Linked DNA regions of Homo sapiens: region 2 is linked to region 1. The links come from fine-mapping of genetic effects on gene expression. A gene starts in region 1. The other region holds a variant in brackets. All regions are shown on one strand. Distances are between the middles of the regions.

The links. PIP is the estimated chance that this variant, and not a neighbour inherited with it, causes the effect.
Region 2: its variant is fine-mapped to the expression of RGS12 in whole blood (GTEx, PIP 0.97). The same link has a PIP of 0.9 or more in blood mononuclear cells.

Annotation. Positions count from the first base shown.
Region 1 is chr4:3,285,879-3,301,996 of GRCh38, forward strand. It overlaps RGS12 (regulator of G protein signaling 12), which reads left to right and starts at 7,143. Exons shown (of 18, transcript NM_001394154.1): 1 at 7,143-7,221. RefSeq lists silencers at 6,449-6,558, 6,739-7,218, 7,229-7,278, 9,302-9,497 and an enhancer at 7,932-8,517.
Region 2 is chr4:3,328,550-3,344,667 of GRCh38, forward strand. RGS12 (regulator of G protein signaling 12) reads left to right here. Exons shown (of 18, transcript NM_001394154.1): 3 at 14,388-14,504. Among named protein-coding and RNA genes, the nearest start is that of RGS12, 44 kb to the left of the region's middle. The variant T/G (reference allele first, on the strand shown) is at 9,862.

The DNA.
Region 1 (16,118 bases):
GGGCAGGGCTCCGTAGACTCCTTTGTCACCCCTCAGCTTCGCCGTGAGGAAAATGTCCTGCAAACACCAGCCCAGATGGAGGGAGCCACGGCTTCACCACTTCCTGCCGGTGTGCCGGGCTGCGCTCCAGGGACCGCTGGGGCCGTCACCAAAAGAACGGAGCCCAGGGAACGTGGAGAGGAGCCCAGATGCCTGAGGTGAGCAAGGCAGTGCCTCCGTCCAGCCTGGCATGTCCTTCTGGTTATTCGTGAGGCCACCACAGGGAGGGTCACCAACTGTCTGTTTTGCCTAGGACCGAGGAGGTTCCAGGGGTGCAGGACCTTTGATGCTTAGAGCCAGGAGAGGCCACTCGGCCACCCTAAGGGCAGGTCTTCTGCCCCAGGCCGCGTGTGGTTTCTTTCGACACACTGAGGAAGCCTTTCTCCTGAGATCACCAAATGCAGCCTGCCCGGTTTCTGTTCCCCATTACTGCGTATGCGGTGGGCAAACCTCCTCCGGCCCTGAAAGCTCCTGGCTGCCTGGGGATTTTCTGTGTGCTCCTACATAAAAAGCAGCTTCTGTCACTCAACTGGCAAATACAGTCTCAATTCAGAGTCAGTCCAAATCCATTACCCTAACCCTGAGATATTAATCCAAGCTCCATTCTTGGTTTAAAGCCAGCCCCTGTGGGCCCTGCTCCCCCGGCCTCCTGGGGTGGAAGCCTGTGCTGGGGGCTGCGGTGTGGGGTTTGCTCTCCTCCCTCCCGCAGGTGGATGCAGGGCGAGGGAGTGAGGAGGAATGAGGGTCAGGGGCAGGAAAGGCAGCCTGTGGCAGCCAGGCGGGGCCAGCGCTGCACACCGGGGAAAGGCTCAGCGGGAACGTGTTCCCAGCACTTTGTCTCCCCAGGCCTCAGTTTCTGCATCTGTAAACGGGCATGTGCAGGGTTGTGAGAGGGTCAGAGAGCCCCCGTCAGGCCCTTAGTGCGCTGCTAGGCACCGAATGGGAGCCCGGTCAGCAGTGCCTGCGGGAGCCGACGCTGCTCCGGCAGGATTGAGTGGAATTCCGCCCAGGCCGGGAGCTCCCTCGGGCTGGGGAGGCCTCGGGGACCTGGCTATGATGGTGATCTGGGACTTGATGGGTGAATGGGTTGGGGCCAGCATCAGCTTTGGGCATATATTAGGGAGTTACTGAGGAAGACAGAGAAAAAGGGGCACCTAGTTCTTTTATAATCCTCCGGGAAAAGGTGAGCTCTGAGCGCTACCTGCTCACTGAACAGCGGAAGAGCGAGCAGCGCCCAGGCCCCGACGCTGTGCAGAGCCCCGGGAGGGCGGCGTTTGCGTGATTGTTCAAGGTGGACTCGAAGAGCAACATTTAAAACATTTCCGATGTCATTTTCTTGTTTTGAGGCGATGCTTTCTGATTTATTTCACGTTTATTTTCTGTAAAGGAAAACACCCTCCTAAACATACATTTTCTCAAGGCACATCACATGGTCTGAAAAAAAAAACAAAAAAAGGACATCTTCTCCAAATTGGTATTCCTCCAGCTGGAGCAGCTCTGTTGCTGCCAAGCTTCGGTTCTTTGACAAGAAGAGACATTTCAAAGCCGGGTCCCACAGGAGGGGTTCACGCCACACACGTGGCCAAGCCCTTCCTGATTCCTGAACCTGCCCCTGCCCGCTGGCCTTTGGGACCTCCCCAGCCCCTGGCCCTGGCGGCCCGAGGAAGTTCTGTGTAGGAATAATATGGTCTACTTAATTAATGCATATTTTATTTGGTGACAACGTCCCTAATTGCCATGAGCTCTACTTAGTAACAATATGCTCTATTTAATTAACTTTGTGTATTCTGGTTAAAAACATTATGCTTCATTTAATTTATTTCATCTGCTCACTGATGGTGAATTCCACAACACGGGCACAGGAGGCTGCCCCACCTGGAAGGTAGTCCCGGGACAGAGCATTTCAGATGTGGCAGAGTGCAGGCAAGGGGCTGGCAGGCTCATTTGTCCCACGGGGCCTGGGTGGGGGCCCTCAGCTCCCACATCTCCCCCAAACTCACCGGGCCCCACACAAACCTGTCCCCTTAGCTCTGTTTGGGGGCACGCCAGCCCCTTCGCTCCATCCCTGCCCTGCTTCCCAGCGTCAGCGCCAGAGTCCCTCTGGGTCCTCCCCCTCCCATGGCCGAGCCGTCGAGAGACACCGTGGGCCCGTACCTGCTGGCCCTGAGCTCCCTGAGCCTGCGTGCTCGTTGCTCTGAGCGCACACAAGGATTCGATGGCAGATAAACTACTGCCGCATGGGGAGTGTGCGCAGACCCCCAAGAGTGATGGGCCCGGCGGGTGTGTGGGGTCTGGTGGGCGTGTGGGAGGGCTGGGGCTGGAGTGGGGACACTGGCTTCACAAAGGTTGTGACACAGAGCTGGGCCCTGACAGGAGGGGGGCAGCTGACAAGGGGGCCCCGTGGGTGTGGGCAGCATCCCCACTGGGCAGGAAGGGTGTGAGCCGCGCAGAGGCCTGCCGGACGCCTGGCCACCAGCACTCCCCTCTGGGCCTGGCTTCCTGGTGCAGCTCCTGAGGCACAGCTTCCCCCATGCTTTGGGGCCAGGAAAATACTCACTGGGGACATGCAGGCCCATGGGTGTCCCTTGAGGTGGACCTGGTCAAGCTCTGACGAACCCCAACTCTCTCGGGAGGACAGATGGGGTTTGGGTTCCTCTGTTGCCTGGGTCGGCTCAGACCCTGACACAAGCAAGCCCCCAAAGTCTGGAGGTTCCTCCTTTCCGGGACGTATGGACCCTGGCATGTTGCCACAGGCCCAAGGGAAGGCTAGGGAAACACCTGCTTAGAGGCTGACAGGGCATTCCAGGGCCTTCTGCAAAGGGATCCGGTCCCCGTGAAGGGACTCTGGGCCTTTGCACCGATTCCCACATGGAGACTGCATGAGGCATGTGGCTTGCTGGGGGCCTCAGGGGCCCCAGGTCCCAGCTCCCAGCTCTCCTTGTCTCTAATTATGGACGCCGTCAACCCTGAGTGAGCCGCCATCCCCCCACCCCTACGAGCCCCATTGGTGTAGCCCCTAGAGTGGGCTGACTCCAGCCTGGCTGCCCACTCTGCCTGCCATTCCCTGCCCAGGAAGTGCATCTACCTGCCTCTGCCATCAGGATCCTGTTGCCCTGCTGTGGGAGGGACCCAGTCCGAGGTCCCACCTCCCCCTATCAGCCTCCACCTGCTGAGGACACCCACAACCAGGTCCCCAAGTAAGGTGTGGGCCCCTCAGAGAACATTGTTTTACATGTTTTCTTATTGGGGTAAAACACACATGACGTACAACTTACCAACTTAACCATCACAATTTTTTTTTTTGGAGACAGGATCTCATTCTGTTGCCCAGGCTGCAGTGCAGTGGCGCGATCTTGGCTCATTGCAACCTCACTTCTCAGGCTCAAGTGATCCTCCTGCCTCAGTCTCCTGAGTAGCTGGGACCACAGGCACGCACCACCACGCCCAGCTAATTTTTTGTGTTTTTGGTAGAGACGGGGTTTCACTGTGTTGCCCAGGCTGGTCTCCAACTCCTGAGCTTAAGTGAGCCACCTACCTCAGCCTTCCAAAGAGCTGGGATTACAGGCATGAGCCACCGTGCCTGGCCTACAATTTTTATTTTTTACTTTTTTAATTAGTGCAAATCCCATAGTATATTTATATATTTTTAATTAACAAATGAAAAATTGTACAATCTGATGCTTTGATATATGTTTACACTACAGAGTGATTAAGCTAATTAATGTGTCCCATCATTCACATCCCATTTTTTGTGATGAGTACATTTAAAATCTACTCTTAGAGATTTTCAAGGGTACATTATTATTGACTAGTCATCATGCTGTACAATAGATCTTCTGAACTTAATTCATCCTGCATAGCTGAAACTTTGTGCCCTTTGACCAATGTCTCCCCAATTCCTACCCACCCACAGCCTCTGGTAACCTGCATCCTACTCTCTGTTTCTGTGACTTGGACATTTTCAGATTCCACATGTAAGTTAGACCGGGCAATATTTGTCTTTCTGTGCCTGGCTTATTTCACTGTTATAATGTCCCCCAGGTTTATCTGTGTTGTTGCAGATGGCACATTTCCTTCTTTTTAAGGCTCCAGAGTATTCAGTAATTCACGATGTTTTCTTTATCCACCTAATCCATCGACGAGCGCTTAGGTGGGTTCCACATCCCGGCTATTGTGAGTGGTGCCGTGCTGAGCCTGGGAGTGCAGACGTCTCTTTGACACACTGATTTCATTTCCTTTGGATACATACTCAGCAATGAGATTGCTGGATCACACGGTAGTTCTAGTTTTGATTTGTTGTGGAACCTCCATACTCTTTTCCATAATGGCTGTATCTTAACCATTGTTAAGGGTACAGCTCAGGGGTATCAAGCACCTTCACACTGTTGAGCAAACATCTCCACCCATCTCCAGAATGCTTCCATCTTCCCAAACTGAAACTGTCAATAACTTCTGTCCTCTTCTCCCCCGCCCCTGCCACCCACCCTTCTACTATCCGTCTCTATAAATGTACCTACTCTAAGAACCTCCTATAAGTGGAATCAGACAGTATCTGTCCTTTGTGACGAGCTTATTTCACTTAGCATAGTGTCCTCAAGGGTCATCCGTGTCGTAGCCTGTGTTGGAATGTGGGGGGACGCCCCCACACCCCGAGTCCCGTGGAAGAATTATCATCCATCCCACTTGTTCAACTCAGGAGTGCCTCCTTAAGCAACTGTAGCCTATGAGCTGTGGGTAGGGCCGCTGAGCCGCTGCCTGGCAGGCACGGAAGAGCAGGTGCACGCTTCTCCATGGCCCTCCCTGTGCCAACAGAGGCCGCCCTGCCAGTCTGGGCCCAAGAGTGAAGCCTACAGGAGGAGAACCACAGGGGCCAGGGACTGACCACCCAGAGACTTGGGCATGGTTCTGTGTCTAGCCCCTCCAGATGGACTGAATGAGTTTTGCTTAATTGGCAAGACCTACCTTTTCAAAACCTTCCAGCATGACACTTGACACCTTCTCTCCGTCTCAGGCAATTTCTCCCCACTTCTGGGGGCCCTGGCTTTCACGGGGATGGACTAGGGTGCTTCCTCCCACAGAAACAGCTTCTTGGGCCACCCCCCTGCTGGGCATGAGTTCTCTCACAGGCTCGGTGACCCCTCGTATGAGCTGCTCGTCCTCTTCCCCTACCCCTGTCCATGAGGCACCTGGAGGCCGGGCAAGTGTAGAGGAAAAAGCCAAAGGGAAAGAAGAGACCTGCAGGTGGTGTTTCCCCATCTCTCACTCAGGGCCACTTGTCCCTGCCCTGGAGCCTCAGGAGGCTGAGCTCTGCGGCCTGCTTCCTTCTGGCTTGGCGCTGCTCTGGAAGATTCCACCATCTGCGCATAGGCAGGAGCCAAGAAGGTCCACAGTTTTGGGGGGGCCAGGGTGGGGGCAGTTTCTTTCCTGGCTCTTTTTTTTTTTTTTTTGAGATGGAGTTTCACTCTGTCACCTAGGCTGGAGTGCAGTGGCACAATCTCGGCTCACAGCAACCTCCGCCTCCGGGGCTCAAGTGATTCTCCTGACTCTGCCTCCCAACTAGCTTCGACTATAGGCGCGTGCCACCACGCTTGGCTAATTTTTTGTATTTTAGTAGAGATGGGGTTTTGCCATCTTGCCCAGGGTGGTCTCGAACTCCTGAGCTCCGGCGATCTGTCCGCCTCAGCCTCTCAAAGTGCTGGGATTACTGGCACGAGTCACCGCGCCTGGCCTCTTCCCTGGCTCTCTCTGCTGGGTCATCAAGGGCTGGCTGTGTCCCTTGGCCATAGGTCGCAGCTCCTGTTAAGTATCTCTCTCTCTTTGTCTGGCTTCCTGTAACCGCTCTGGCCGCGCTCCTTCAGCCCTGCAGGTGAAAACAGTTCCCTCCCTGCTGTTACCTGTCCCAATTCAGCACCGCCCTGTGGCTTCCCGGCTCCCGGACCGCGCCTCTGCCAGCGGGAACCCTGCTGGACTCTTAATTAATTGTCCCACTGAGAATGCCATTGGTTTCCTCCTGGGATCCAAACTAATCACACAAGACTAGATGATGGAGAGCTGCCAAGAAACCATGGGGCGGTGGCGGGGACGGAGGGGAAGCGTTTTGAGCCCATCAAGGCAGGTGACAGGAAAGAAGCAAACCCGAGAGGGGCCGAGTCCCTGGGCGGGCGGCAGGGCTGGAGCGTGAACAGCAGCGACGGATGCGTCTCGAGGGAAAAACGCGGCGGGAGAGAATGAGGGGAAGGCAGGAAGGAAGGGGCAGGGAGACCCAGCGCCGGGGAAGGAAGACACGAAGAGGGCGAGGAAGGAACTCCGGCCTAAAGGGTGAAGGCGGCGGCTGGGACAGGGCCAGAGGCGCAGGCCGGGGCCGGGCAGCTCCTCCTCTCGTGCCAGCGGTGCCTCCGGTCCCGCCCTCGCTGCTGCCCGCGCTCCGGGAGGGGCAGACCCGCTGGACGCCGCAGTCACCGCGCCGCCTTCGCGGGCGTCCCGGGGCCCGGAGGGAACGGCCTTTCCTGGCTGTCCCCGTGGCTTCGCCGCGGGAACTCACGCCGCCCCCGAAGCTGCCGCCAGCTCCGGGCATCTGCCCAGCCGAAAAGCCAGGGCGCCGGGGCCTGACTCCCCACAGCCAGGTTTCCCGGGCACAGAGACCCAACGGGAGCGGGACTTCCTCGGACACCGACGGCGAAGGACAGAGACAGCCCAGGCAGGGGCGGCTCCTCCCGGCCACACCGACCTGCCCTTCGCAGGGTGTCCCGGGCCAGCGGAGGCAGAGAAAACCAGCTTGCGGGAACGCAGTCGCTCCCAGCACCAGGGCCGGGCCAGTGCGGGTACACACCGTGCGCACCAGCGCCGCCGCGCCCCCAACGGAAGTCCCGCCCCCGGCCGTGGAGGCCCCGTCCCTCGCTTCTTCTCATCCCTGCTTCCCTGGCAGTCCCGTTACCACGCTGTCCCGACGCGAAGGCCCTCGCCCCGCCCCGTGCCCCGCCCCCGCATCGCCCCGCCCCAACCCCACCCCCTTGGCCCCGCCTCACCAGGTTCGCCCCGCCCCTCTCCGTCCCCGCCCCTCCTCCGGCCTCGGCCCCGCCCTCGCCTCGACCCCGGGGGGCGGTGGCTGCCGAGGCGACCGTTGCGCGCGCGGGCGGTGGCGCGGGCCGAAGCGCCCGGAGCGGGAGCGAGCGGCGCGGCCCGGTAGGTGTGCGGGGCCGGGGCCGGGGCGGGGGCAGGGCGCGCCGCCTCCGCTCTTTCTTTCGTCTCCGGGGCGCGCGCCCGCGCCCTCCGCCTCCCGGCCGATCCCGGCCAGCCCTGCGCGGCGCCCGTCCCCTCGGGGTCGCCGCCCGCCCGCCCTGCCTTTTGTTCGCCGGCCTGACTCAGGCTCCTGGTCCCGGGCCCGGCGCGGGGCGGGGCGGGGCGGGGGCGGGGGCGGGCGGCGCGGGGCGCGGGCCTGTGGGGCCTCCGGCCGGGCGGGTGCGCGGCCTCCTGGGGCCCCGCGCTGTGAGGCCCGCCCGGGCCCTTGGCGGGACCCGCGGGGGCGGCGCCGGGCAGGGGGTCCCGCGGGCGAGATGCGCCCGGGAGCGCTGGGAGGGTTCCCTCGTCGGACTCCACGAGCGGCCGCTTTGTTAGGGCAGAAGCTGCCTTCCGAGACCCGAACTCCAGACGCACTGCAGCGACCTGGGGTCGCCTCAGCCGCGGTGCCGCGATTGTGCAGTGTAGACAGAGGGGTCCCAGAGCCGTGCGGTGTAGACAGAGAGGGGCCCAAAGCTGTGGAATGGGGACAGAGAGGGGACCCAGAGCTGTGGAGTGTAGACAGAAAGGGCGCCCAGAGCCATGGAGTATAAACAGTGGAGTGTAGACAGAGAGGGGGCCCAGAGCTGTGGAGTGTGGACAGAGAGGGGGCCCAGAGCCGTGGAGTGTAGACCGAGAGGGGGCCCAGAGCCGTGGAGTGTAGACAGAGAGAGGGCCCAGAGCCATCTAGTGTAGACAGAGAGGGGACCCATAGCTGTGGAGTGTAGACAGAGTCTCATAGCCGTGCAGACAGAGAAGGGGCCCAGAGCCATGGAGTGTAGACAGTGGAGGGTGAACACAGAGGGGGCCCAGAGCCGTGGAGTGTGGACAGAGAGGACCACCTGGCCTCTCACCTGCTTGGTCACTTGCTGGGAATGTGTCCCTGGGCAGGTGACCACCTTCTCTGTGCCTGAGTTTCCTCATTGGACCTGTCTTTGGAGCTGCTGCAAGGGCTAAGAGTGTCTTTGTCTGAAGTCCTCAGCGTGGTCCATGCCGTCCTGTGCAGGGCCCTTCTGAGGCCACAGGGACGTGCAGGATGGCCGGCAAGGCCTGCACAGAAGGGGCGCTGGGGGGCCTTCCCAGGCAAGGCAGCAGCCCCACCATTCACAGCAAGGAGACTACCAAGGAGGGCAGAGAGGCGGCTTTGGGCAGCAAGGGCTGCTGGGGTGGAGTCCTGCTGGCCTTCCCCTAGAGAAGGCGACGTGGGGAGGGCAGAGCAATTCTGAGTAAGGGAGAACCAGTTTATATTTCACTTTAGAAAGTAATTGTCACAGTGCGAAGTTTCTTCCCCTGAAAAAGCGATATAAAAAGGTCCATCGTGGCCAGTGCTTTTGGGGACTTGAGATGATGGGTATCCGGTGCCCGGGCCCTGCGTGGTGCCTCAGCTGGATGCTCTGCAGGTGGGGGAGGCCATGTTGGCTGAGGGCAGGGGCTCAGGCAAGGGCAGTGGGGTGGCTGAGCCTGCACAAGTTGGTGCACCCCTGTCTGGGTCTTTTTCTTAAAACTGCAAGTCCAGCCTTATCTCTGAGACCTCCTGAGGCTGGAACCTGCCATCAGACAGGCTTACAGTTCTAGCCCTGGTAACTGCAATGATGCGGATGCCTCTGTGACTGGCAGAGCAGAGGGAGGAGCGACAGGGCAGTGGTGACCGGAGGTCTCAGGGAGGTTGACAAAGACAAGGGCGGAGGAAAGGCCCCTCACGTGGACTGGAGGTACAGTACTGACCTGTGGAGTGCTCAGGAGAGGGCAGGGGTGGCGCGGCCTGAGGGCATGTCCTGGGGAGGGTCAGGAGGTGGGAGGGAGGCACTCGACAGGCACTGCAAAGAGGAGGGAATCCAGGGTCAAGGGCTGGCTCCCTTTCTGCCCTGTTTAGGATGAGGGTCTCGGGGAAGAAGGGGTGGCCAGGCCGAGGAGACCTGTGGCGCTGGGAGCTGGGACTCAGTGAGGTCCTGGAGGTGGTGAGGGCCCAGAGGTGACAGCTGGTGACCCAGCCGGCCTGGCTGCTGCTGTGGGAAGGTCGGGGGTAGAGGAGATGGAGGACAGGCTGAGGCTGCCGCTAGTCAGCGCTTCCGGCTGATAGAAGGGGGCTGAGTGGGCTCTGCAGGCCTGGTTGACAGTATGTGGATCACATTGACTTTGGACCTTTATTTTTGTCTGAGACTGACCAAGCAAAATAATCAGGCTGGGCTGGGTGCAGTGACTTAACGCCTGTAATACCAGCACTTTGGGAGGCTGAGGCAGGTGGATCACCTGAGGTCAGGAGTTCGAGACCAGCCTGGCCAACATGGTGAAACCCCGTCTCTACTAAAAATACAAAATTATTCGGGTGTGGTGGCAGACGCCTGTAATCCCAGCTACTCGGGAGGCTGAGACACAAGATTCGCTTGAACCTGGGAGGCGGAGGTTGCGGTGAGCCAAGATTGCGCCATTGCACTCCAGCCTGGGTGACAAGAGCAAAACTCTGTCTCAAAAAAAAAAAAAAAAAAAAAGCTCCATCTCAAAAACAAAGACAAACCAACAACAACAACAACAAAAAGCAGGCTGAAGGAATAAACAACTCATTAGTTACGACTTAACACATGCAGGGCTTCAAGCACACAAAATCCTAAAGCCCAGACCATTTTACATTTTATTTGAATTTGGTGGAATTCCTAGAAACATTTCCCTTCCCAGTTGTATGAGTTTCCTATTGCTGTGTAACAAAGCACCACTCACTTAGTGGCTGAAAATGGCAAAAGTTTATTTGCCCTAGTTGGGCTGAAACTGGTGTCATCGTCAGCTGGCCAAGCTCCCTCCCGAGGCACTGGAGGAGAACTGTTGGCCCGCCCCAGTCAGCTTCTGGAGGCTGGAGGAGAGCCGTTCACCCCCCTGGTCAGCTTCTGGGGGCTGGAGGAAAACTGCCCCCCTGGTCAGCTTCTGGGGGCTGGCCTCATTCCTTGGCTCCCGGCTCCTGCCCTGCCTCCATTGTCACATCGCTGTCTTTCTCCTCCTCTTTATTTTCTCCTTTTAGAGACAGGGTCTCACTTTGTTGCCCAGGTGGAGTGCGGTGGCACAATCATAGCTCACTACAGCCTTGAACTCCTGGCTCAAGCCATCCTCCTGCCTCAGCCTCTTGAGTAGCTGGGACCCCAGGCATGTGCCACCATGCCCAGCTAATTTTTTCTGTTTTTTTTTTTTGGTAGAGATGGGGTCTCACTATGTTGCCCAGGCTGATCTTGAACTCTTAGCCTCAAGTGATCCTCCTGCCTTAGCTTCTCAAAGGGTTGGGATTGCAGGCACGAGCCACCGCGCCTAGCTTCTGTCTTCTTCTGCCATGTTCAAATTTCCAGGATAATCTCCTTGTCCTGGGAGCCTTAGTTTACTCACATCTGCAGATCCGTATTGCCGTATGGCTTTCACAGTCCCAGGGATTAGGGCCTGGATATCTTTGGGGATCGCTATTCAGCCTACAGCAGGCTCCTCACTTGTCTTCGAAATGACTTCACTTTTCCCATTGTGTGCGAGGAGCACCCGTCTCATGCCTCTTCTCTGGGATGGGCAGGGTTTGTCCAGGGAAGGTCCCTGTGGTTTCACTTCCCTGCCCTTGGGGAGAGGCGGGAGCCATCCTGGAAACAGGTGTCCTGGGAAGGAAGACAAGCCTTGCTCAGGATGCAAGCCCCAGTCATGAGAGGTTGTGGGAGGTCACTCATGCTGTGCCTTTTTAGGAGGTGGGGTCGTTACCAGTTCCAAACTGGATACTCCACACAGTGCTCATGCAGTTTTACCTGTGGTTTTGGGGGCCACCGTTGCAGAAGTTGCCTAGATTCTTCCATGAAGGAGCCTCTTGCCTCGGGCTCCGGGCAAGGAACTCTTGTGTTAGAAGTTCCCTTCTTCTGTGTCTTTTAAGGTCTGGACTTCAGTGAAAGAGAAAAGAAACATCTAGTTTGTTCTTTCTGTTTTTCTTTTCTTTCTGCTTTTCCATGCACTTGCTGTCCCCAACTCTGTAATCATGGTGATACCCGATACGCATACACACTCTACTCACATATCTTTTCCTACATCTTTGTGTCCCTTAGCAGTGATCTTAGTTGTCCTTCCAGCATGCCTGAAAAAGGGCTGAGTCTGTGGATTGAAGCGTCCAGTTGTAGGCATTCTCCTGCCCTGCCTGGCCGCAGCCCCCAGAGGCGGGATCCTAAGTGGTCTGTTTTCTCAGGCATTTACTGCTGTTGAAGCTGCTCCTTTAAAGCTTAAGACATTCTTTTTTTATTTCTCCCAAAGGCCGTGGGGAGGTTTAGCTCTCCTCTGTCCCACCAGCCTCCCTGTCCCTCTATGTGCCATCATAATCACTGCATTTTTGGTGAAATCGACAGTCCTTGCTCTTGTGTGACTGTAAGCATTGCTCATTACTGCGCCAAGGAGTGCCCTGAGCACAGGTCCTCTCGCACAGCCCTGTGGATTAGCATCTTCTAGTCACCCACCTATCAAAATGGTTTGTTTTTCATTGCATCCAGGACACTAGCCCCATCCCCACCCCTTTGGGATTGGAGCCTTCTCCCTGCTCTCGTTTGCCCTGGTCTCCAGGAGACCTGCTGCGCCGCTGTCACCTGCATTTCCCGCTGCTGTCCTCCATCTGTGGGGCTCCCTGTGCACTGGGTCCTGCTCTTCTCTCTCTGCTTGGCTCACTCCTCGTTTTGCTGAAGTCCTACTCTTTTGATACCTAAGAAACATCACATAGGTATTTTTTTTGGTCCTTGATTTAGAAAACATCTTTATTTTACTCTCCAATTACCTTTTAACTTAGCTGGGTATAAAATTTTAGACAATGATTTTTTCGGAATTTTGAAAATGTTGCTTCATTGCATTTGGTTTCTGTGCTGTTGAGGTCTGACGCCATTCTGATTTCAGTTCTTCTGTGTGTGATCTCTCCTGCCTCAAGCTCATAGAAGCGGCTCTTTTCCCTCAGTGTTCTGAGAAGCCCGATAATGGCATCTGCTTCCGTTTATTGTGCTGGGCACTCCGTGGGCCCTTTCAGTCTGAGGATAGAAGTTTTTAAATTTCAAAGATAATTTTCTTTCAGTTTTGCTGTTTTCTCTTTCTGGAACTTTTATTTGGAGGTTGGACCTCCTAGGTTGATCCTCTAATTCTCTTTTTTCTCATCTTGTTGATCTCTTTGATGTTTGTTCAATTTTTTTTTTAAGAGACGGAGTCTCACTCTTTTGCCCAGGCTGGAGTGCAGTGGTGCAGTCATAGCTCGCTGCAGCCCCAAACTCCTGGGCTCAAGCGATCCCCCTGCCTCAACCTCCTGAGTAGCTGGGAACACAAGCATGCACCCCCACAACTGGCAATTTTTACTTTTCATTTTATTTTTTCATAGTCTCGTCATGTTGCCCCTTTGCTGTTTCTAAGAAGTCAGTCACTCTGGTAGCTGCGTTGCTCCTTTATGTTATATGATGAGGTGCTTTCAAGCTCCTCCTGGGATTTTTGGCTTCCAGCAGTTTGATTGTGATGTTCTTAGGAGGGTTTGCTTTGTATTTGTCCTGCTCAGGGTTTGTTGAACTTCTTGGATATGTAATTTTTCACCATCTTCAAACTGCTATTAAGTTTCGTGCATTTTAAAATTTCAGTTACAGTAGTTTTTATTTCTAGAATTTTCACTTATTTTTTATGGTTGCCATTTCTCTGCTCTGTCATTTGTTTATTGTGATCATACTGTCATTAAATCTTTGAACACATACTAGCGGCTTTAATGTTCTTTTCTGCTAATTTCAACACCTGCATTACCTCAGGATCAATTTCTATTGGCTTCTTCCAACTATGGGCCACATCTTCCTGTTTCTTTGAACATCTAGTGTTATTTGATGGTGTACTGGACATTGTAGATGGTAACTGTAGTGACTTCTTTTTTCTGAAGAGTGTTGATTTTTGTTCTGGAAGTTAATTTGTCTGGACTCAAATGAAAATCTCTGCTGCAGTCTCTGCTTGGTGCTGTTGACCTTCCGGCTGCCTCCTTCTGCTGGACTCTGGGGTCTCTCTGTGCATGGATGGCTCACCACTGGCCAGGACCTAGGCAGAATTTACTAACAGATCTCACGACTGCCTCTTCCCCAGTGACCTCCTTTCTGAGATATGCCCCTCACTGTTCAGCCACCCAGCCCTCCCCAAGCCCTATCTTGGACTCTTCAAGCTGGGAGGATCACAACTTCTACCTGTGCTCTAGCCATTTTTAGAAACACTTGTTTTAGTTGGTGCAGCTCTCTCCTTTCAGGGGACAACTCCCCTCCACTTTCTGCCTGCTTTTCATAGCTCTCCAGGACCTCCCAGAGTTGGTTTTTGTGTCTTGTGTCTGGTTGGAACTTGATTTAGCAGCGTGGGAGGATGTGGGAACTGTCAATTTACGGACAGAGCTGCCGGCACTTTGATTAGTAGCCAGGCATTGGTCTTTGGCAGTTTGCTTGTTTTTCTCATAGAGCGTTCAAGTGATCAGGGAGCTAGCACTCCAGTTAAAAGAAAGTTCTTCCCCTACCAACACCTGACTTCTGGATCTTAAGTGTTAGCCTAGAATAGATGCATTTCCTGGATGGGTCAACTAACCTGATGAGCCTGGTGGCAGAGAGACTGTGCGTCCTTTATTGCCTTCCTCTGATGCGAGCACCATAAGGATAGGGCCTATGGGCTCTTCTTTGACTTTCCAGAGGCCCATGACCCCTGGACCCCTGGACCCCACGCAGGTGTGCTAGGCTGGGTCTCCTCCAGGCTCACTGAGGGTGGGAGGAAAGGCTCAGCCTGGCCTGTGGCTGCTGTTCCGCGGTCTTCACCTCACCCCCACAGTCTTTTCTAACTCTGTGCTGCAGTTTGTCTATAAAATAAGGTTGTTGTGAGGTTTAAATAGCATGATGTGTGGAAAACGGTTAGGAGCAGTGGCTGATACCTGGGAGTCCTGGTCACCATTAGCGATGGTGCTGGTGGCATCGCTGCAGGCTTGCACTCTGCTGGGAACAGGTGCTCGCCTCGGAGGCGCCCAGGCCTTCACTGAGTGCATCTGGGTCTGGCCCCCACTGTGTGCCAGGCTGCTGGAGACAGCAGTGCCGCGGGCTCTGCTGAGCTGGAGTGCAGTGAAGGTGCTTTAGGCAGGGTGAGGGGCTGGCTTGCCCCGCCTGCCAGAGCGCCCTGCACTCCAGGGGCCTGGAGTCCAGCCTGGGAGTTAGTAGACAATCGTGTGGAAGAGGGACAGCTCTGTGGATTCCAGCCTTTAGCAGCCAGATTCCTCCCTGCGAGGCTGGGGACGTTGGCCCTGGGAGGAGGAGGACTGCCTGGGCCCGCCCCTCCTAGGAGTTCCTGTGCCTGCTGGCACAAATTATCACCAGCGAGGGGCTAGCCCAGTAGCAGCCCCCGGTCCCGTCACAGTTCTGGAGACTGGAAGCCTGAAGTCAAGGTGTGGCAGAGCTGTGACCCCTCCGAAGGCTTTAGGGGGAGACCCTTCCTGCCTCTCCCAGCTTCCAGGGCTCCCGGCATTGCTAGGCTTGTGTTTGCATTGCTCCAGTCCCTGCCTCTGTCCCCATGTGGCATTCTCTCACGTGGCTTTCTCTGGGTCTGTGTGTCCCTTTTGCCTCCCTCTTTTACGGACACCTGTGATTGCATTTAGGACCCACCTGGGAAATTCAGGATCATTGCCTCATCTCAGAATCCTTAACATAATCCTTTTCCAAATAGGGTCACAATCACAGCTTCTGGGGATTGGGCCCTGGTATCTTTGGGGCTGCCGTTTGCCCCACTGCACCTGCCTAGACCTGGGGGTGGTGAGGAGCCACGTGAGGAGGTCACAAGGGCACAGCGCTTCAGGCCCCAGGAGCCTCCCCGGCTGCCCTCCTCTGTAACACGGGGTCTGTCCCCGGCTGCCCTCCTCTGTAACACGGGGTCTGTCCTGGCTGCCCTCCTCTGTAACACGGGGTCTGTCCCGGCTGCCCTCCTCTGTAACACGGGGTCTGTCCCCGGCTGCCCTCCTCTGTAACACGGGGTCTGTCCCGGCTGCCCTCCTCTGTTACATGGGGTCTGTCCCGGCTGCCCTGTGGGCAGGACAGGTGCACAGCTTGTCCTTAACACGCTTGGTGCTGAAGAGGCTCACAGTACTGTGAACATTGGCAATGATTTTGTCTTTCTGAGAGTGGATAAGATACTAAAAGCAAAAGGACCCCTTCAGGCCTAGTGAACACAAAACAGTGGTGGAACCCTCTGTGTCTTTTTCCCTTGAATCCTGTAGGTGGGTTACCAGGTGTCGGTGAATAGGAGAATCACATGTAGGAGGCTGATTGGAAATAAGACCCATTTGTTGATGAGAAAAATTGGTTTCAGTCTTTCTGGGGTGTTTTGGGCTAAGGAGAGGCCCGCCAGGGCCAGGGATGGAGAGTGAGGCCGGGGTCCGAGGGCCGGGGATGGAGAGTGAGGCCGGGGTCCGAGGGCCGGGGATGGACAGTGAGGCCGGGGTCCGAGGGCTGGGGATGGAGAGTGAGGCCGGGGTCTGGGCTGTGCTTGTCCTTTCCTGTCCTTTACCTGCCACTGTGGGTTTTGTCCAAGGAAGCAGGTATGAGGGAATGAAGGGGTGGGGGGCGCAGAGGTGACATGTCCAGGTGGGGTGATGGGGGACCTCCGAGGTGCCAGCAAGGAGGAGGAGAAGAACATGGACGTTGGAATGAGCCAGGTTTAAACACAGCCTCTCTCCAGGGCTAGACTTGCCAGGTACAGTGTTGCCGCACAGCATTTGGGGCGCACTCATACTAGGAAGTTGTCATGTATCTGAGATTCACATTTAACTGGGTATCCTGTATTTT
Region 2 (16,118 bases), 43 kb after region 1:
CGGTGATGAATACATTTCTCTTTTTAAAAAATAAATGACCTAGTCTCAGGTATTCAGTTATAGCAACAGGAAATGGACTACGACTATATATACATACACACAGTAGGGATAGAGAGATACAGGTATAGATATAGTAGTTTTGCAGTTAGGTAGTAATGCAGATGGTAGTGAGATTTCTCTTACTCTAGGGTTCTACGCAAAGTCAGCCGGAGCTGTGTTGGGAGTGTTGGTTTATAATTTTCTCCTGTAAACTTAGAAAACTTTTGACCTGGCTGCCCTGGTTCTTCAAACTACATGCGACTGTGTCCTAAAGGAAGCAAAGTCATGGGGTGTGTGGGCAGCTCTGTGAGCAGAGTGGCCATCTGGGATCTGTTACCTGGCCTGACTTTTCCTCCCCCTTGTCTACTAACCATGTCCAGTCTGGATGGGAGGTCACAGGGTCACCTTTAACTCCAAGGGGAAGTTGTCAGGCCAAGAGGCTCAGCTGTTGGATTCCAGGTTGGAGAGCTGAGGGTTCCGATGAAAGGCACAAAGACCGAGCTGCACACTGCGAGCATCAGTACTTCCTTTCCTACCCTCCCTGTGAGAAATGCCTGAGCTGTGGGTCAAGAAGAGGAGAATTGGAGAGCACCAGGGGGTCAGGTGGGTGGGAGGAGCCTTCACATTCCACTTTGAGTTCCATGGTGGCCCCGATGGAAGCTGCCCTCATGTTTGGGACCCAGGAGTGCAAGAGATCTGTTTTCTTTGGTGTGTTTAGAACTTGGAGGGGGACTGCCCCATAGAAGGTGGGAGTGGGGTCAGGGCAAGGGATGACTCTGAGTGGCATGAGAAGTTCCTCTGGGCTCCTGGGGGTCACAGAGCTTGAGAGAGTGTGTTGCACAGGACAGTAAATGTGCTCATGGGCCTGCACCCAGGCCAGGCAGTGGGAGAAGGAGATGAGCACAGGACCAAACCAAGTGACACCTGAGAGGCTGGTGGCCTTACCCTGTGATGTTGAAGCAACAGTTACACAAACGTCCCCTCATACACTGAAACTGCAGGGAGGGGAACAGTGCGGCGCACCCGAGAGGGCTTGAGTGTGATGCGACTGAAGCACTAAAGAGCAGAATTGATGGAAAAGTTAATTTGACTGTTTACTTAGAAATGACTGAATTAAATCTGTATCAGGTGTAATTTTGGCTTAGAGTTAGAAAATCAGATTGGGTTATATAAAATAAAGGTACATTTTAAAGTTAAATGTCTTACAAACCTGAGTCCATGAGTGCAAAATTTCAGTCTATTACGTTTAGTTGAGGAAGGAGTAAGAGAAGGAATTCCTTTGCCTTTTTAAAACAAATTTTCCCTTTAAGAGAACACAGTGATAAAACTGTTAGGTGCAGCTTTTGGGAGTCACTGATCTTATTGCATATCAAGCTTCCTAATAATTTCTAGGACACATGTAATCGTGAGGCTTTATAGAAGCAGAGAGAAGCTGTCTGCCAAGTACACCGCCTGGTTCTTTCTTGCTGTGTGAGGATGTGCTCTGGCCCAGATTTCACATGGGAGGTCTCTAAGCAAATGCACCTGCTTACATCAGTCACATGGAGGAAGCTGTTGACCATGAAGTATCTCCATTTTGTACTCTGAGAGCTGCATAGTTTATATGGCATTTTTCAGGGATCCATACTCCATAACTCCTAGGATTCCAAGTTTATTTACTGTGAGCAATCCTAGACACACCAAGTACATCCCGCTGAAGGCATTCCACAGATAAGGATTCTCCTGCTAGCAAATATCCTTGGGTTTGCCAGGAGGTCTTTCATTAGCAAGTTTACAGGGAGATTTGATTAGGTCACCTTTCTTGTCTGGGGTAACCCCAGTTAAAGTGAGAGAATGGACTACAGGCTCCTCCTCCTTGCCTTCTTCCTTCACTCAGGGAGAGAAGATACCTGTACTAGAAGGGCGTGAAGAATTGTGATCCAGGATCTTATTGGCAGCCTGTTCGCAACAACAGCACCTAGAACAGTGCCTGGCAGTTAGAAGGCACTTAATATTTTTTTTGATTGAATGAAATTGTCTGTTGACAATGGAGTAAAAAAAATGTAGTATTTCCATACTATGGGATCCATACACTCATTTTAAAGTAATACGAGTTTCTATGCTATAACAGCACAAATTAAAATAATAGTGGTTTAGATAAAGAAGTATAGTTTGAGTAAACCCTCCAGAGCTGGTGTGGAGGCTCCACCCTCCTCAGGAACCCAGGGTGCCTACTGTTGTGTGGTTGCTGCTCTCCACATGTGGCTTTTGCCCTGAACTTTGAGATCGCTCCTTTAGCTTCACTTCCCCATTTCCTTCAGCAGGAAGAGGGAGGTGGAGGCACAGTCTGGAAGTTGCACACATCTCATTGGACAGACTTAGTCATGTAGCTTTGCCTAGTGCAAAGGGCTGGGAGATGTAGTCCTTAGCTGGACAGCCGTGTGTCTAGCTAAGATTTCTATTCCTGTGGAAGAAGGGGAGACTGGTTCTTGCAGGAATGGCGAGCAGCCTGTCACGCAAAGCGGATCAATACATTACTGATAGGAAAAGCTCCCAAGGGCATATCGAGTGGAAAATGCAAGTCACAAAAACACATATATTTAATATCCTGTTTTGGTGTAAAAAATTCTAACACCCCTCAAAGAAACCTATACATTTTAAAGTGCACATATGTTTATATGTAAATATATGGAAAGAATACAAAGGAAACACTCCAAATGGGTAATAGTAGTTATCTCAGAGGTAGTAAATGAAAACTGGGAAGAATCCAGGGAATTTTTATCTTGTGTTGTTTCAACTTCTTATGATGGGAATATGAACATATTTACTAAAAAAAAACTTCCTTTGAAGGAAAAGTAAAAATTATTTAAAAAATTATTTTAATAAGAACAAAGTCGGTGAGAGATGGCCTTGGAAACAAACTGTACTTACATGGTGTAGCCAATGACAGGCTCCTTGGATTGCAGGCCAGGAGAGTTTCAGGTTCAGCACATAGATTTTACGCTGCTTTTCCAGTACAATGAGAGGAAGTTTCAAAATAGATTGTAAAAAAAAAAAAAGTGTGGATAATTCTAAAAGGGTCACAGCTCAGGCCCCATGATGTAAGTCTCTCTGGGAAGGGTGGCGTTGGCCATCACGCTGTGTAAACAGGGATCCCGGGGGCCAGCATCGCACTGCTCTCCATCCCCAGCGAAAGGAAGGGAGGCAGACACTGGGCAGCGGCACTCGGAGTCCACCCAGTCCTGGGAAGGAACGGCGGCTCCAGGGAGAGGAGCCTCATGGGCCTGCGGCAGAGCTGGGGACCTGGGGCTTTGTGCCACCTGCACCAGGTGACCTTTCCTAGTCCCTGCAGCGTTTGCCCATGGGTTTCATCCTGACCACGGCCACCGAGTGCGCTCTCTGGGGAATGGTATCGCAGTGAGGACAGCTTCAGGCCTGTGGAGGGGCTGGGAAGCAGTGGACAGAAGCCCCCACCGTCCTGGAATAGGGCAGGGGCTCCCTGAGAAGCTGGGATCACTAGGACAGATGGCTTGGGGGCCATGGAGGTAGAGGATCCCTGAGCAAAGGGGCAGAGACCAGTGTGGCCCCTTCACTGTTGGCTCGTGTTCTATGGGGTTTCCAGGAAAGTGAGACTGTTCAGGGCAAGGTGGCCGCCACATCCCTGCAGAACCGGAAGTGTCTTAAGAGTTGGAATCGGTGGCGGTGTATTGATTCGTTTTGCTGCTGCTTCAGTTTTATAGAAATGGCTTAATAACACAGTTGTCTGCAACTTGTTTTTAATCACTTCATGTTATTTCAGTGGTTTATCCATGATGTTATTGGTAGTCACAGTCTGTTCATTTTAACACTGTATAATCCATTGTGTGAATCTACTGCTACATACACAGAGCCACTAAAGAATTACTCATAACGCACTAGTGAGCATTCTTGTACCTGTCTCCAGGTAGGCTTGCCAGACTTTTAAATCTTTTGCTAATCTGGGAGCTGTAAAGTGGTGTCTCATGTGGCTTTGATTTGCATTCCCTTGCTTATAAGGCTCTGCGTTTCCTCTCTGTTGAGGCGCCTACTCAAACCTTTTGGTCCCTCTCTCCTCTTGGGCTGTCTTTTCCTCATGGACTGCGGGAATGATAGACGCTGGCTGTTAGTCCCTGGCTGGTTGTGCACTTCGCACGTGTCCCTGCCCCGGGCATGACTCCTGTTTTCACTCTTCTAGCCAGATGTATAATCTTTTCTCCTATGGTTTACACTTTGTGTCTTTTATATATGTATATTTTTGAGATGGAGTCTCACTTTGTCACCCAGGCTGGAGTGCAGTGGTGCGATCTCGGCTCACTGCAACCTCCGCCTCCCTGGGTTCAAGCGATTCTGCTGCCTCAGCCTCCCGAGTAGCTGGGATTACGGGCACATGCCACCACACCTGGCTAATTTTTATATTTTTAGTAGAGACAGGGTTTCACCATGTTGGTCAGGCTGGTCTCAAACTCTTTTTTTTTTTTTTTTTGAGACGGAGTCTCACCGTCTCCCAGGCTGGAGTGCAGTGGCGCGATCTCGGCTCACTGCAGGCTCCGTCCCCCAGGGTTCACGCCATTCTCCTGCCTCAGCCTCCCGCGTAGCTGGGATTACAGGCGCCTGCCACCTTGCCCGGCTAATTTTTTGTATTTTTAGTAGAGACGGGGTTTCACCGTGTTACCCAGGATGGTCTCGATCTCCTGACCTCGTGATCCACCCGCCTCGGCCTCCCAAAGTGCTGGGATTACAGGCGTGAGCTACCGTGCCCGGCCTGGTCTCAAACTCTTGACCTCAAGTGATCCTCTCCCGCCTTGGCCTCCCAAAGTGCCGGGATTACAGGCGTGAGCCACTGCACCCGGTCTGTGTCTTATTTAATACATTTATTACTACTTGAGGTCAAAACAGATTTTCTCCCTTTTTCCCCTTAAAGTTTCTTGGAGTTAATGTTTATGAAAAGAATCAGGTGAGACGAAAGTTAACTTTTTTCTCTGTGGGTAACCAGTGGTTCTAGCACTAATCTCGTCCTTCCACGTGGATCAGCAGTGCTCCCTCTGTCATGGATCATGTGTTCATGTGCGTGTGGGTCTGTTTCTTAGTTCTGTGTTCCTTCCTAGTCAGTATCCCCACCTATACTTTAAAAAATTACTATAGCTTTATAATACGTCTTTCTGTCTTCTAGGGCAGGTTTTCTTGTCTGTGCTTGGGCCTCGCTGTTTTATGTAGATTCTACAACCAGTTTACAAATTCCCCGAAATGCTATTGATATTTTGTGTTTTAATCTGTAGCTCAGTTTGAGGGAATTGATATCTTTAGGAGATCAAGCCTTCCTATCCATGAAAATAGTATCTCTCTTCTCTCTCATTTTGGCTTATTTCAGTAAAACTTTGTAATTTCCTTCATAAACATCTTTAATTAAATTTATTCTCTAGCTAGATTTATTTCTTGGTACCTTATAATTTTATTTGCCATTATAAATGGTACCTTTTAAAAATTGTAAATGCTTCAACCTGAGGAAGCTGGTTGAAAAAGGAATTAAAATAGAATAAATTATGCATGCCAGCTCTTATGATATGTGGAAGTATAATTGACTAGTTGCTTTTTATATCTAGCTACCCTATTAAGGTTAAGAGAGTTCACTTCGTTACTACTTGTTAATATTTGTTTTCATGAATAGGTGTTAAATTTTAGCTGTTTTCTTTGTTATTTTGCATTCATTGAGATCATGTTTCTGCCTTTTGATGCTAACATGGCAAATTACAATGATTGATTTTCAAATAATAGACCATACTTGCATTCCTGAGATAAACCTAACTTATGATCATTTTTTATACACTGATGTATTTGGTTTGCTACTATTTTTGTATAATTTTAAAGTCTGTGTTTGAGTGAGACTATCTCGTACTTTCCCTTCTCATTATCTTTGTCGAGTTTTGGTATCAAGATTACTGTAGTCTCACAAAACAAAAAATTAATGGTAGAACTTTTCTATTCCTCTTCCTTCTCTTTTCCCTCCCTTTCTTCTCCTTTTCCTCGTATATTGAATCTTATATTTTATTTTTATCCTCCCTCCAGAGGATTTCAATAACTTTTTATTTAAAAATTTTAAAATTAGGGATAAAGCCTGTTTTGTCTATTATTAATCTGGTGAAAGCAGCCTTTTCTGAGTCAGCACTCGTCTTTTTATTTAAACTTTTCCATTTCTGTTTTCGAATTGTTACTATAAGTGGCAGATTGTTCTGACAGCTCAAGAAGAAGATCAGGCAGATGCGGGTCACTGATGTGTTGGGTGACTGGCACATTGAGTCTTGGCTCTGGGATATTACTGCATTCTTCCTGTGAATCCACTTTTTCTAGGTTCTCCCTCCCTGCTTTCTTGCCTTATGTTTTGTTTTGTTTTGATTTCAAGCCTGGTTGGTTTATTTCCTTAGTCCACACCCACCTCCTTTACCGGTGAAGAAATTATGTGCTTTGTTTCTGTCGTTAAAGGTTCTAGTCCTAGTCAATTGCTTGGGACATCATAGGCCCTAAGATATTTTGGAATAATTTAAATTAATATCTCTACTTAAATGTCTTTTCATGTGTAATATTCATCTTTTTCTTTCTTGAATAGGACACCCAGTCTTTGTGCACATTTTTCTCCTTCCTTTCACAAAACGTGCTTTGCTATGACCCAGAAACCTTTCTTTGGTTCCTTACACGTTACTCTGTAACCATTGCTGTAAGTTTGTCTAGTTTTATGTTTGAAATGGAATTTTGTTGATTCTAAAATAGTTTTGCTTTTGGGCTTGGAATTCTTCCTGCCGCACAGAGTTTTGTAACAGATTTAACCAGGTGTGCCGGTTACTCAGCTTACTGCCCTCAGCCCTAAGCCCACCCTCTATGACACCGACAGGGTCTCCGCATCACCTTCCTGCTCACAGCTGCATCCCTGTCAGGCTCTGTCCCCAGGGGCGCTCCCCGGAGCTGGCAAGGCAGGAGTGTCACCATAGCAACGTTTCACCCTCACAGGGGCAGTTCCTTCCCCTCTCAGTTTGCAGTTTGCCCAGCTCATTGCGCCAACCTTCTGGCCCCTCAGAAACAATGGATGGGCTGGGTGCCATGGCTCACACCTGTAATCCGAGCATATTGGGAGGCCAGGAATTGGAGGTTACAGTGAACTATGATCGTACCCCTGCGCTCCAGCCTGGGAGATAGAATGAGACTCCCAACTCTAAAAATTCGAAAAAAACTGGGCCGGGCGTGGTGGCTCATACCTGTAATCCCAGCACTTTGGGAGGCCAAGGCAGGCCGATCATTTGAGGTCAGGAGTTCGAGACCAGCCTGGCCAACATAGTGAAACCCCGTCTCTACTAAAAATACAAAAAAATTATCCGGGCATGGTGGTGCGTGCCTGTAGTCCCCGCTACTTGGGAGACTGAGGCAGGAGAATTGCTTGAATCTGGGAGGTGGAGGTTGCAGTGAGCCCAGATCGCACCACTGGACTCCAGCCTGGGTGACAGAGTGAAACGCTGTCTCAACAAACAAGCAGGCAAACAAACAAACAAACAAAACCCAAGGGCTGGAGCCCCATGTCCTGTCCCTCGGTGGTCTGGGCCCCAGCTCCACCGGCTGTTTTCCTGTGAGCTGCCAAGTTGGAGTAATTCCTTCTGCTTCCCTGCATTTTCCCAGCCCTGGGGTGGCAGCGGCTTCCCGAGGTTGCTACTCCATGGCATCTCAGAGTCCCTCTGCCTTTCCATCCCTCAATACCAAGCTACCCCTTCTCTACATAGTACTCTCTGTTAGAACTACGGGTGGTTTCTGTCTCCTGAGTGAACCCTGAAGAATATAGCAGGAGATGCGAAGATGTGAGCTAGAAATCTGACTCCTCGTAAGTCTCTATATTGCCTCTTTTTGGAAATACCTTCGGATGATCTGGTCTCTCTTTTAAGCTACATACTCTCTTGTGTACAGTCTATTTGTTCAGTAAGTATTCATTGAGTACTTGGTATGCACCAAGCACTGTGGGAGGGGTGGGGGTGTAGTCGTGACCAGGACATGGTCCTTGCCCCACTGGGGCTTAGGGACTAGTGTTTATTTAGACCGAATTGGTTAGGAATTTTTAGTTCTAGCAGTGTGGGTAACGAAAGAAAAAAATACATAAATTGCATTACATCAAATGTAAAAACTCTACACATTAAAAAACGCAACCCACAGAATGAAGGCAACCCACAGAATGGGAGAAAACATTTGCAAGCCATGTATCTGATATGCAGTTAATATGCAGAGTCTATAGAGAACTCCTATAACTCAGCAACAGGAACAAACAACCCAGTTAAAAAATGGGCAAAAGTCCAGTGTGAATTCTGTGAAGTAGAAAAGAAAATAAAGAGAAATTAAAATAAAAAAAAATGGGCAAAGATCCAGTGTGAAACTGTGAAGTAGAAAAAAAAATGAAGAAAAAGAAAAATTAAAAAATGAGCAAAGGACTTGAATAGACGTTTCTCCAAAGAAGATACACAAGTAGTCAATGGGCACGTGGAAAGATGCCCAACATCATCAATTATTAGGCCAGCGCCAACTAAACACACAGTGAGTCAGCACCTTACACTCCTTGGGATGGCTACTATAAAACAACTGCCACCACCATCACAAGAGAGAAAAATGACCCGTGTTGGGCAGGATGCGGAGGAGTTGGAGTCCTGGCGCACTGCTGGGAATGCCAAGTGCCGCACCCACCATGGGAAACAGTGTGGTGGCTCCTCAAAAAACCAACAGTACAATGACCACATGGCCCACAGTCCTACTTCTACGTATATACCCAAAGAATTGAAATCAAGGTCTTGAGGAGATGCTCTTTATACACATGTTCATAGCAGTATTATTTGCAATAGCTGAAAGGCAGAAGCCACCCAGATGTCCATCATCAGGTGACGGATAAACACAGTGTGGTCCATCCATACCGCGGAATATTATTCAGCCTTGAAGAGGAAGGCTACAACATGGATGACCCTTGAGGACACCATGCTCAGCAAAATCAGCCAGTCACAGAAGGACACACACTATCTAATTCCACTTATGTGGGATTCCTAGAGCAGTCAAATTCATAAAGACAGAAAGCGGGAGAGGGGGCCTGGGGGAGGGGAATGGAGAGTGCGTGTTAAATGGGGGCAGAGCTTCGTTCTGGGAAGATGAAAAATTCTGGAGGACGGTGGTGATGCTTGCATAACAGTACGAACACACCTAATGCTACTGAGCCAGCTAACTTGGTAAATTTTGTGTTATCTGGATTTTAAAATCAGATTGAATAAATATTTTGAAAGTTTAATAAAAAACGGCAGTGCAGTAGTACAGCAGGAGCTGGGTGTTGTCTCAGGTCAGCCATGAGCTGTGTGACCTTGCACGGACTTGCTTCCCTGACTTCCCAGTTCTCATCTGTGGATTGAGGCGTTGGAATGGTTCTTACGCCAAAATGATTCTTTGCTCCGAACTGATGGTCGCATGGGATGATTCACTGTTTTGTTTTAGACAGAGTTTTGCTCTTGTTGCTCAGGCTGGAGTGCAGTGGTGTGAACTCAGCTCACGGCAACCTCTGCCTCCCAGGTTCAAGCGATTCTCCTGCCTCAGCCTTCTGAGTAGCTGGGATTACAGGCATGTGCCACCATGCCTGGCTAATTTTGTATTTTTAGTAGAGACAGGGTTTCTCCATGTTGGTCAGGCTGGTCTCAAACTCCCAACCTCAGGTGGTCCACCCGCCTCGGCCTCCCAAAGAGTTGGGATTACAGGCGTGAGCCACTGTGCCCAGCAATTCATTGTTGGCACTGAGAGTGGCCAAGAAATTTGGTACCTGAGCAGGGG[T/G]TAAGGTTCTACCCTTCCCCTCCCCTCATTTCTAGCGGTTTTACTTTGGAGGGAACCCGATGCTTTTCTGGGCCTGTGTGTGGTAGTAATGCCGGTTGACCGGCCGTCCCTTGGGACCCTGTAGCCAGGCAGGTTGATTGGCCTGAGGCCCTTGGTTCTCCCTGAAGCCGGCTGGCTCAGGCTGGCTCACTGCATCCTGGATGCCTGGGGGCCAGGGTGACCGGCCTCTGTGGTTGGCGGGCGGGCGGTGTCTGCTCCACTCAGTGCCCTTGAGTGCTGGGTGTGGTGGCCGAAGGCTGGGAGGTGGAGATGGTGCCCTGGGGGCCACCTGTCTTCTCAGACAGTCGTGAGGAGTCTTCTCAACTTAAAAGCTGGAGTTTGAACCAAGTGGTCTTTTAGGCCATTTTTATTGTTGTTTTCCCTGTTTAGTACTCTTTGGGGAAGAGTCAAGATTATGTCACACCAGCAGGGGTGCTAAATCGGCGGTGATGATCTGAATTTATTAATTTACAAAACTTTGTCAATTTGAGAAACACGAGTAAACGCTGGTCTCTCCCTGCTGTGGAAGTTGTCACATCTGTTACTGGCCCTCGTTCCATGAGTTGATTTAGTGCTTTGCAAGAATTGTTTTCTGTCTGCTTGTTAGACTTTTCCTTTCTCCTTTACATCTCCAAAGTGCACAGTGCATCCACGTGTGGGCAGGCGTCAGACATCCTTTCTTTTGCCTGTGCTGGGAACAAGTTGCAAGGCTGACTGTGGAAGGGCCGCTCACCTGGGGCGTGGTCAGGGCTGCCAGGTGTGGTGGCTCACACCTGTAATCTCAGCACTTTGGGATGCTGAGGTAAGTGATTGCTTGAGCCCAGGAGTTTCAGCTCAGCCTGGGCAACATAGCAAGACCCAGTCTCTACAAAAAATACAAACATTAGCCGGGCCTGTTGGCACATGCCTGTGGTCCCAGCTACTCAGGAGGCTGAGGTGGGAGGATCACTTGAGCCTGGGAGGTCGCGGCTGCTGTGAGCCATGATCATACCTCTCCCTCCGGCCTGGGCGACAGAGTGAGATCCTGTCTCAAAAGAAAAAAAAAATTAAACTCTCTTATCACTGTCCATCTAAATAACAGAGAGAGGCTCTCTGAAAGAAATGATGTTTATCTGGGAGCAGGGCATTGGAGTAGGCAGATACTTGCCATGGTCTACAGTGCATAGCTGGGGAGGCCAAAGAAGACAAAGGCTTTTAAAGGAAAAATGAGGATCACATGATTGTTTTGAGATAATTATCCTTGCCACAAGGATCAGCACCAAGGATGATACCAGGCTGGAGGTGGGCGGGCGGTTGCTGGGCAGATGTCCTCACAGTGTGTTTTGAGTGAGGCTGTGATGGCCTGTGTGCATGGCTGTGATTTGCACATCTTTGTGATGGATTTGTTTTTCGCAGGCACACTAATGTGTGAGCCCTCCCTTCATGGCCCTCCCCAGCTCTGTTTGTTAGGGTTTTTAACACAAGTGATTCATTTTGATTCTGACAGCCTTAATCTCACAAAGCCATGGGTTCATTCCCCACCCTTCTCAAGAGCAGAAAATACAGAATAGCAAATCTATAATGAGAACAAAGTCACTCATTGCTTTAGCAGTGGACTGAACATTTCCCGTTATTGCTGTTGCCGCAACACACGTCTGCATGCCGTACAGGTGCCCTGCGCTCCCCATTGTTGGGCAGTCAGTCCCCCGTGTTGTGGCCTCCGTGTCGTGTGTCTCATGAGCACTGCCCAGCGCCTTCTCAGGCCTCCCCTCTGCCGGGGCCGCACACCTGCCAGGAGCCGGGCGCTGTGCTGGGCAGCAAGTTTTCAGACAGCATCAGACGAAGCGAAGGGCGCTGCTGCTGTCGTCCCATGGCAGTCCCCTGGGGGAGATTCCTCATGGCTGACAGCGGTGTCACTGGTGGGAAGGAAAAGACCCAAAGACTGGGAGAGAGGACGCTGGGGAGTCTTAACTTAGACGGGGGCTTAAAGGTCTCTTACAAGAGGGGTTGTTTGGGTTGAGGGGTCAGGGGAGGGAAGAACATGCACAAAGGCCATGAGGCGGGCGCCCGGGGTGTGGACCCAGAGCGTGGACACGGACGCCAGCCTAAGCAGGAGGGAGCGGGGGTGGCAATTTATCAGTCACCACAGAAGAGCACGCTGGCAGGACACTCAAGGTGCCTGCCATCAGGAGCAGAGACACCAGGAAGCCACATCTGTGTCCTAATGGGACCACAGGTTCCCTCCAAAGAGTGTCTTACAGGCTGATTTACAGAAGGCAGGAGCTGGCGGGAGCCTGAGCTGAGCCCCATGGGAGCAGCAGGCAGGTGCAGGCAGGTGCAGGCCGGTGCAGGCCAGTGCAGTCCGTTCTCCAGCCTCGGAGGCACGGCGTGCACGGGGGCCTGCTCCTTAGTTTGAAAACAAGCAGTTGTGCCACTAGTGCCTTGGAGTGAGCTGGCAACTGTGGCGCCTCAGCTTGGAGTGTGCTTGACACCTGTGTTGGCCGGTCCATCTGGCACCTGGCCGCTGTGCTTCTAGGCCTCTGCCTGCCGGCTGCCCTCTGCTGGGCATCGCCACTTTCAGGATGACAGCCTTAGAGCCTTCTCTCGGCCTGGTGGGGGCCCAGTGGTGGCGTCCCTCCCCGAGCATCCTCTCGTGTTCCCGGCAGCCACAGCCCCTGGGTGCTGGACCTCTCACCTGCCAAGAGGATAGTGACACCCCTCTGCCCGTCTTTAGGGGCTGTGGGCGGAGGGGAGGGTGGAGAGATGGGGGTGTGGGCAGGGACAAGGGTCGAGAGATGGGGGTGTGTGCGGTGGGGAGGGGACAAGGGTGGAGAGATGGGGGTATGGGGGGAGGGGACAAGGGTAGAGAGATGGGGTATGGGGGGAGGGAGGGTGGAGAGATGGGGGTATGGGGGAGGAGGGGACAAGGGTGGAGAGATGGGGGTACGGGGGGAGGGAGGGTGGAGAGATGGTGTGGGCGGAGGGGAGGGTGGAGAGATGGGGGTATGTGGGGAGGGGACAAGGGTGTAGAGATGGGGGTGCGGGGGGAGGGAGGGTGGAGAGATGGGGGTATGGCGGGGAGGGGACAAGGGTGGAGAGATGGGGGTGTGGGGGGAGGGAGGGTGGAGAGATGGGGGTGTGGGCGGAGGGGAGGGTGGAGAGATGAGGGTGTGGGGAGGGGACAAGGGTGGAGAGATGGTGTGGGGGGAGGGAGGGTGGAGAGATGGGGGTGTGGGGGGAGGGGAGATGGGGGTGTGGGGAGGGAGGGTGGAGAGATGGGGGTGTGGGCGGAGGGGAGGGTGGAGAGATGAGGGTGTGGGGAGGGGACAAGGGTGGAGAGATGGTGTGGGGGGAGGGAGGGTGGAGAGATGGGGGTGTGGACAGAAGGGAGGGTGGAGGATGGAGGTGTGGGCGGAGGGTAGGGGCTGCAGAGGCCCCGGGGTGTGGGGTGGTGTGGGGCTGGGCCGTGACAATGGGTGGGGTAGGAAGGACTTTTCAGTTGAGGAGGAGCAGCGCAGTGCAGGGAGACCCAGGCGGGAATGGGTCTGAGGACATGATGGGGTGTGTCAGCGTGGTGGTCAAGGAGAGGGGAGAGGCGGGAGGGTGGCCTGCTCCATCTGCTTCCAGAAAGGTGCAGGCATGCTGTAGGTTTCCCTAGGGACTCTCAAGGAATTGTGGCAAGGTTTTCTACAAGACTCTTATGCAGGTGGAGAGACAAAAGTAGCTGCAGAGCCTCAAAATCTTGACATAAACAGGTTCCCTTCCTTCAAGCCTGAAATTGGTCACTTAGGATTCCAAGTCCTCAGGAAAGCAGAGCTCCCAACTGTGATGCTTTTTGTTTTTAAGAGGTGGCGACTGATTTGCTGGAGCCAGCTTCTCATCTGGGGAAGTGTCTAGCATAATGATGGGCACAACATAGATGTTTGTCGAATTGAATTAATTCTGGTCATTTCCTGGAGGAGGAGAGACAGGATGTTTTAATAGCCAGTTATTTCCTGCGCCGGAGTTGGTTGGGTCTTCAGACACCAGCTGAATGCTTAGGGATTCTTTCATTTCCTAAAGTGCTTACAAAATTATGAAAAAGCACGACTTTGCTGAAAACCTGCCTTCATCTTTACTAATCATCATACTAGTCATCTTTACTCTCAGTGTACTGTGTCCACTTTCCAAGCACCCTTGCACGTGATTTCATTTGATCTGGGTAACAGCCTTGTGGGTGGGCTGCCGTCATCCTGTTCTGTGTTTACAGAGGTGGAGGCTTTGTCAGAGGCACACAGTTGGCAGAGCAAATACTTGACGATCCTGGGATGACTGTTTTTTTTTCAATTTTGCATGTTTTTCTTGTATAAAATATACCTAAGATTTACCCTGGGATGACTTTTAAATCTCTCTTTTTAAAAAGTCTTTGTTCCACAGTATTCCTTGATTTTCTGCTATGCCATGCATTGGACAAGACTAAACATCTCTTTGCAAAAGAATAACCTGATGCCTTTTTTCTTCGTGTTTAGGGCTCAAAATTTGGGCGGGGAACTGGACTCACTCAGCCTTCTCAACGCACGTCTGCTCGGAGATCATTTGGGAGATCCAAGAGATTCAGTATCACTCGCTCCCTTGATGATCTTGAGGTAATTTAATTTTCATTTTTCTTCTTTTCTCCTTCAAGTTTTAAAAAATGCAAGTCCACCTTGCAGATACGTCTGGCTGTTTTTTGAGTCCCTGTGGTCCCCTCCCCTCCTCCTCTGTAGTGGTAACCCCTGTTTTCTGGGGGACAGCGTCCCATGCACATTTGGGAACCTTTCTACCCTGCAATGTGTCTGAGCTGTCACAGGGCTTTCTGGGGTGCTCTTCTGTGTGCCAGACTCCAGTGAACACTTCTAGAAATGAGCTGGTTTAATCCCCACAAATACTCTACGAGGTAGGGCCTGTCATTGCCCCCTTAAAGACGGGGCGTGATCCACAGACATGGGTAAGTGTCATTTTGTGTGGCTCGTCTATCTGTGTTTCTTTTGTAAAGAACAATGAAAAGATTTTATTTTTTATAGCAGTTTTAGGTTTACAGAAAGTACAGAGAGTTCCCTTATGCCCCCACCCACTTGTTAAAAATGCGCCGTCGGGATCATTACGTCCTGCATTGGTGTGGGTGTTTGTTACAGTTGACAGGCCAGTGTAGACATATGATTATTAGCTTAGGTCCGCAGCTCACACGAGGGTTCCTGCCCGTGCTGTCCTCTCTGTGGGTTTGGACAAATGTCCGTGCCGTGCACCCACCGCTGTGTATCACCGAGAAAGCCGCCGCCCTGGAAATCCTCTATGCCCCACCTGTTTACCCTGCACCCTCCCGTTGAACTCTGACAACCACTGATCCTTTGACTGTCTCATTTGGCATGTTTTAAAATTTTATACAGGTGCAGCTGTATTCTATGTCTTCTTATTAATGTCTTATTCTAGAACATGTGTCATGTTTTCAAGATTTACTCCTGGACTTTCAGTCCAGTCCTTTTACTTGTTGTATGGCATTCTGCTATGAGTATATGACGATGATTGATGCCTTCCGCTATCGATAGACACTCAGTGGGAGTGGGAGAGAGTCTGCCCTTACGGCATTCTTGTACATGTCTCCTTCAGCGCGTGTGGGACGGGCGAGAGTGTTCTTAGCTGGGAAGGATCTGCATGAGCGGTGTGGCCAGACTCCGTCCACAGTGACTGCTCCAGCTCCTGCTCTTCCAGGAGAAAAGGTGGCTTCAGGGATGGCAGGGGTCCTGGGGATTGGCACGTTGTGGCTGCAAATAGGAATCTGCCCTTGGATGGCCTGTTTAGCTTTGGTCTCTCCGGGGAACTCGAGGGCAGGTCAGGGCTAGCGTGCTGTATCTGGGCGGGCAGCAATCAGAATCGGCTGCAATGGGGTGCTCATGCTGCTGATGAAGACTCAAAAGGGGTGTGTGCTACCTAAGGCAGGGCCTAGCTTGAGGCTGAGGACCCCGGGACCATTTTTGGCTCATACTGCCATGCTGAGCTGACCATCTGTGCACAAGTCCTGTTCATTTTCCTCCTTTTCTGTTGGTCATGAGGAACTCACTGTGTGGCCCTAGGTTTGGGCTGACAGAGCTGTGCTGGTGCCCTGGTGAATGATATGTGGGTCTGGGCCACGTGCTCTGCACAACCTGCCCCTTCCCTGCTGGGTGTAAACTTCTATCTCATGGTGGATTGCTGCTGGGTGTGCCCCATGCCAGGGTCAGTGC